Homo sapiens: one gene and its partner. The protein of the gene in region 2 purifies or fractionates together with the protein of the main gene of each other region. This does not show direct contact. Each region holds a gene or a part of one and is shown on either strand. Other genes may lie near its edges.

Evidence for each region.
Region 1: the proteins of SNX14 (region 2) and SNX13 purify together in Homo sapiens (affinity purification with mass spectrometry; one large-scale study listed by BioGRID and IntAct). This does not show direct contact.

The regions. Positions count from the first base shown.
Region 1 is NC_000007.14:17,790,495-17,793,994, reverse strand, and holds the end of SNX13 (sorting nexin-13), read left to right. Parts: 3' UTR 1-3,234; downstream 3,235-3,500. UniProt on the Homo sapiens protein: May be involved in several stages of intracellular trafficking. May play a role in endosome homeostasis. Acts as a GAP for Galphas.
Region 2 is NC_000006.12:85,506,859-85,510,358, reverse strand, and holds part of SNX14 (sorting nexin-14), read left to right. Parts: intron 1-1,542; coding exon of another isoform or gene 1,543-1,589; exon of another isoform or gene 1,590-2,039; intron 2,040-2,045; coding exon of another isoform or gene 2,046-2,083; exon of another isoform or gene 2,084-2,299; coding exon 2,300-2,391; intron 2,392-3,069; coding exon 3,070-3,126; intron 3,127-3,500. UniProt on the Homo sapiens protein: Plays a role in maintaining normal neuronal excitability and synaptic transmission. May be involved in several stages of intracellular trafficking. Required for autophagosome clearance, possibly by mediating the fusion of lysosomes with autophagosomes.

The sequences.
Region 1 (3,500 bases), on a different chromosome or scaffold from region 2:
GACAGATCTTCTGGGGCTTAACTCAAATACTGTTGTGTCTGCACCAGTCTTTTAGTGTCTCAAAATAGATTATTAATACATCCATAAGTCTGTGGTTCTTCTCATTCTCATCTATAATCCACCACTACCAAGAGAGATTTCTGTGTCTTAAATGATTTGGTGCATATTTTGCAACATTGAGAGAAAACTGCCCCCATCTCAAGCAAGAATGGCGTTGGTTTCTTCCATTTCAAACTAATCAGCATTCTCCAGCAATGACAAAGTGCCAGAGTGTATATATGAAAGCTAAGGAAAGCACAAAACAATGGTTCAGAGATAAATTGGCTAATTTGTTTAACAGTTGGAGACTGTGCAATGTACGACTTGGAGGAGTTTGTTTGGCATAATGATTTTGTAGGTCTGTCAGCATTTTGATATATTGTGGATTAGCCAGGTGAATGATCCTTGAAACATCTCTTTCAGGTCTGGAGAAAGAGACAGAATGCCCTTAAAGTGTGAAATAACCTTATACCTGAATTACAGTTTTGTGATATAAAATAAAGCTGAGTATAAAATAAAACCAATCAAACACAGAATTTGATTGGATTTGTTATTCATTGGTATACAACAATTTTTATTCTTATGTGTGCTTTAAGGGCTGTGTTTTGCTCTTAGGGTACTCAATTTTATGTTTCCTTTTGGCATTCTTTGTGCAAAAAGAAGCATGTGGTGGCTCTCATTTAAATTTCAAAATTATTAGTTTTATCTTTAACAGATTACTGATTATACAGAAGATATAATTTATTGGAAGAACTGCCAAATACATTTTGTCCTTCTAAAAATATGGAAATTTAAATAGTAGTCTGGAAAGTTACCATATGATAATTTTTAATTGTGTGATCTAGACATGCCTTAGGTAACTGCAGAAATAGCAAATTAAATGATTAATGAGCTTATTAGTCATAGTAAACATACAGATTCCTAATTCTATGACAGTGTACATATATGAAAATAAATGATGAAAAAAGAACTATAATATTTTTAAAAATATGCTTTTATTTATATTTCACATAATGTAAAGTTCTACAAAATAAAGCTAGTAGGCAAGACCCCTCAGTGTATACCTTTAAACCCATAAATTAATTTTATATCAATAAAATAAAATACTTTCTCTAGTTTTGGAGCTTCTGTATTTCCTATAGTTTTCTGACTGTCCATTTTATCCATCTTAGAAGTATTCACATCCCTTCTATGCAGGATTTCTGCATAGTTTTAAATACTTTCATTGCCTAAGGGTTTGGGTGTGTCAGCTTTTTTTGTTTTAAAAATATTTAACACTAAAACCTTAAAATAATGAAGCTACTTATCAGACCACTGAGCCAAGATCCTGGTATTAAAAGAAAGTCTGGGTGCTTAAGATAAAGGGACAGAGTATTGGTATCCCAGTTATTTGGGAGCTTTAAGATTGGAACAAGATATCACTGTCTTGTTTTCACTTAGATCCTACTTACAAAGTGAGGGTTATTAACAGAATAAAGCCTTCCTTTAAAGCTTTATAATAATCATATTTATTAATAATGCTGTTGTGCATACTTATAGTATGCATATATTCAGCATATGTTGCATGTCTTCAGAATTACATAAAATGAAATCCCTTTCATTGCAACTTGCAAGTGAGAAAAGATCCTTAGTGGCTCTGGTGGAAGAAATAGTATTTCTTCTTCTCAGGGTGTCTCCCTGCCTTGGCCCCTCCCTGAGCCCCAGGCTTTAAAAGTGAAAATGTTTGAAACATGAAACATGTCTGTAGGAAGCATCAGCATGGCCATAAGTGCAGTGATTTTCATATATGCCTCTGCCCATTTCAAATATATTTTTGACATGAATAAATCTAACAGTATACAGAATAATTCATGTAAGACCCTAACGTGTACATGTGAAAAAGCATTTCTATATAATGTGAGGAGCACTGGCCATCAATTAGGGAAATAAAGGTCATGTAATATTGCAAATTTTCAAAATAGAGCCCTGCAAGATAACTGCAATCATACCAAAAACTATTTGAGTAAATGGATTTTTAAAGTAATTTTTGTTTAGAAGAGTTTATATTTCAGAAGCAGAAAATGTCAAATGATAGTCTTTGTAAATGGTGGTGCACCTTCTCTATGCACATCTGTCTTTTACATCAGAAAGAGCTGTGGTCATGCTAAAATTAGAGATAACTTTTTGAATGACTTGGTCAAGCTGTGTGTAAAATATTTAACCATAAGTCAAGTACAGTGTACTATGTTTAATAAAGTTACATTTAATGCATTTATTGCATATATGAATATATACATGAAGAGGCTTTATGTCTTCTGGTATTTGATTTTGAATGTTTTTTAAGTCAGTGGTGCCTTTAGGCAAGAACTTTCGAAATTAATCATTCTTTGTGTTTTCTGATTTTTCAGGTAACATGTACACTATTTAGAAACCATCATAGTTTATTCACCTTAAAAAATTGATTGTATTATTTAAATATATCACTTAGATGGGCATTTCCTATAATTAGGATATTCCAAATAGTTGCTGAAATCAATTGTGCCATTGACCAATGGATGCACTTGGTTAGCCTTAATTTTTTTAAAAAAAAAAAAAACAAAAACTTTCTTGAATATTTCAGTTTGTTCATTTTAAGTTTGTGCTGCTGGTATTTGGGAAGAAAAATCAATCAGTTAAGTGCTACCAGAAAGTGTACCAATTTTTATAAAAATTAAGAATGATATAAATTTCACAATCTAAAATTTTAATTTTGTGCAATATTTTCATTTAATGCATGTGTATTTGAGTAATTGTAAGATAAATGAATTTTTAATTTTTTGAGATGTAGCTTAAACTGTCTTCTTAATCCAACAACTTACATTCCGTTGTTGCTGCATCCTTTTATTTAAGGACTTGTTTTAAAAGTCTTTTTGTCACTCCTTGGAAAATTCTTTTATTAGTAGTAAATTTTGCTTTTAGGAGCATGGCTCCTGTATTACAAGGGAAAAAATATGAAGAGCACATTTTAGGATTATAATTGTTAAAAGATAATGTGTGCATATCATTGTACAGTAAGTGTCAACTGTGTGCCTAACTGTTCTATCAATACTTTCTTTCTTTAACAAAGAAGAAACAACAATCAGAATGTCAGTTATTTTTATTCAACTAAAAGGATTAAAAAATTTATTTGGTTTGTGTTCTGTCCATTAGAAAATACTAATAAAGTATTAACAAACATTTTTGTTGAGTTCATTTAATAGTAATGTATTTTTGTTACTTTTAAGATGCTTGCTCAGTAGTCTTATTTTTAGTATCTGTTTGTATTTTCTTTTCTTTTAGATATCAACCAATTCAAGTTCCAGGTTGATAGATGAGTGCTTGAGTGATTACTGACTTAAATGGACTGAATTTAACTTTTTCTTTTATGGGGCAAATAATTTACACCACAGTGTTAAAGAAACTTTATACTTCCTCATCGTATCAAATTATAAAGTATTTTCCCA
Region 2 (3,500 bases):
TTTAAAACAATGAGATACCACCACACACCTGTTAGAATGGCCCAGATCCAGAACACCAACACCACCATTTGCTGGTGAACATGTGGAATTCTCATTCATTGCTGGTGGGCATGCAAAATGGTGTAGCCACTTTGGAAGACAGGTGAGCAGTTTCTTACAAAACTAAGCACACTCTTACCATGAGATCTGGCAATTATGTTTCTTGATATTTACCCAAAGCAGTTGAAAACATGTCCACCCAGAAACCTGCACATGAATGTTTATAGCAACTTCAGAATTGCCAAAACTTGGAAGCAACCAAGGTGTTCTTTATTTAGGTGAATGGATAAATAAACTCATACTTCTAGACAATGGGATATTATTCAGTGCTATAAAGGAATGAGCTGTCACATCATGAAAAGTCATGGAGGAGCCTGAAATTCATCTTACTAAGAGAAAGAAGCCAATCTGAAAAGACTGCATACTGTATATTTTCAACTATCTGCTGTTTTGGAAAAGGCAAAACTAAGAAGACAGTGGATTGGAGGGGAGGGAGGGATGAATAGGCAGAGCAGAGAGGATTTTTTGGGGCAGTGAAACTACTCTATAATGATGGTTACATATCATCATCTATTTGTCCAGACCCACAGAACGTACAACACCAAGAACGAACTCCAATGTAAATTATGGACTCTGGGTAATAATGATGTACCAATGTGTGTTATCAGTTGTAACAAATGTACACTCTTGTTGGGGATGTTGATAGTCGGGGAGACAAGACAGGGAACATATGCGAAATCTCTTCCTTCTGCTCAGTTTCATTGTGAACACAAAACTACTTTAAAAAGTAAAGTTTATTTTAAAAAGAGGAGGTCTTAGGACAGAACCTTAGAGAATTCTTAATATTGAGGAACTAGCCTTAGAATAGTTCTGCTCTTCCTTGTGAAAATAATTAACTTAAATATCTGCTCTGAATATAAAACTGAACATAAGCTGTTTTTGAGTAAATTTTCTGTAGGCAAATGATGAAATAATTTTTTTTTACCTGTTTTCTGATATAATGACCCTTAGCATTCATACTTTCAACAGTCTCAGCTTTGATACTCAGAAACAACATGGAGAGCCAGAGAATATAGTAATTTGTTATTTTGCTGAGGCACAAATTCAAACCACATTCACTTTAAGACTCCCGTTTGGGAGAGTAACTTAGCTCTTGAGCAAGCTTACCATTCCTTTGTGTTATCCTCTGCTCCTCATCTCTTACTTAGTGACACCTGAAGGATGTGAAAGAATTACGTATATTTGTTCATTAGTTTCATGCATATTAATTGGGAAATTCCATGTAGTATTGGTGAGTTTGAGGATTAACAAAGATTTGTATTGGGCCACATATCTTGAAAATACCAAGGATGTACTATGCCTATTGTAAATTAAATTTGGCTTTGTCTCCTAGCATTAGAATTTTTTATGACCAACACTAGGAGTTTAGTTATGATAGGGGAAAAAGGATAAATATTTGAGTACCTTGTTTATATAAGAATAACTTCTTTTTTTTCTGCTTAGGGAAGCATTCAGTGGAGATCTTAATAAGGATTGACTTTTCTTGGTAACAGAATTGATATCAGTGGTACATGACATCTATGCAGCCAGACACAAATCTGAACTCGTTGGACCCTAAATAAGTGTTTAAATATTTGTTATATTTCCCAAAATGATTGGTTTGTAAGATGGTTAATAGTAACTTATGCAAAAGTCCAGAAATTAGGTGTTCTTATTCACTGAGAAAAGTCTGCCTTAAAAATTAAACTTTTTTTTTCTGATATTAAGAGCACTATGAAAATATATAGAATAAAAAGTAGAAGCTATCTTCTGCCCACTGGGTAGAAGTCGGCTTATCCTACATTGGGTGTTAATCCTTACATTTTTCCATGCATTTCTATACATGTATGTACAGATGTACAAACATCATTTTAGGGTTTAATTTGTTTTGTTTTCCCTTAGTGGGGTAATACAATAAGTATTATTTTCCAACTAGCAGATTTTTTTTTTTTTTTTTTTTACTGCAGCATTTCTCAGAGTTTGCATTATGCCTTGTGCATTGTGAATCTCCAAAAATGGGATACATGATACTGCATTTGTCAACTTGACCATAGAAACCTCTTATCCAGGAGCCTCTTATAGAAACACTGGTTTGGGGAGTATTGATTTGCAGTTTTTGCCTAGTATCTGGGAAACAGGGTGGTGATTTTGCTTTATGATCCAGTTAATGGTGAGTCACTTTATAATATAAAATTATTTCACATTTGGCCTTTTTGTTTAGATCTGTTAGTCAAGTGTATTGGTGAAGAAACCAAGTATGAAAGCATCAGACTTCTGTTTGATGGCTTACAGCAACCAGTACTCAACAAGCAGGTAAAGCTCATTAAAGCTCGTAAACTCATGCTGGCTAGGTTTGGTGAACGACGTAGTAAGGTGTCTGGTAACTCATTAGTTGTATAAATGACACTATACTAAACCAAGGCAATATAATTTTAAACATTCAGATAGAAAAAAAGTTTTATTTGAGTTACTCTTTTTGTTTCAGTTTTTTCTAAATAAGATGAATTATTTTGATTTAAAATTAATATATAGTAATTGTAGAAAATTTGGCATAGAAAATTCATGAAATACAGTAAAAAATTAAAAATGGATAATTCCATTATTCAAGTCACATAGAATAACCAGTTAACATTTTTATGTTTATGGTTTATGTAAACTATGTATAAGCTTTATATATTCTGTTGAGATCTCAATACAGTTGTGATTTTGTGTTCTTGTTTTTCTAAAAATTCAAATATTTAACATAAAAATGAATTAATGAGGCATAATGAAAGTGTCCTCATGCAAACACATGTGTACTTATTACCTATTTTGAGAATAGAACATTATTGATACTACTGAGGCTACTTTTGTGCTTGTTTTATATTATCAGTCCCATTCCCTGCCTTCCCACTTAGAGGTAACCACAATCTTTAATTTTGTGTGTATCATTTTTATGGTTTTTGTGTTTAGTGCCTTAACATTTATTATTATTATTTTTTGGTGCTTTAGCTGACTTATGTTTTATTGGACATTGTGATACAGGAACTGTTTCCAGAGCTCAATAAGGTAACTGAAAAGCAGTAATTTTATTCATGATTTTCTTAATGGTATGCTGACATTTATTTTAATTAGGGACATAAATGTAAGAAAACCCTTGTCTCTGTTCTCTGTGGTTCTTTAAAAAATTAACCTCAGCAAATTGCCTTTTGTATTTTCTTTATTAAACATGCCCAAACAATTCTGGGGGACAGCTATTGAATAGCTTCTGCTTTGACTTCATCCCTTTTTAATTACAAGCAGATAGGGACCCTATATAGTCTTTCCAGGGGAAGAAGTGAGTGTAAGTCCTAGCACTAGAATAGGCCAAGCTCAGTGTTATCGTCTGCACCATTGTATGCTGTGTAAGTCAGAAACTAGAGTATTTTTGAAGCAAGTTTTAT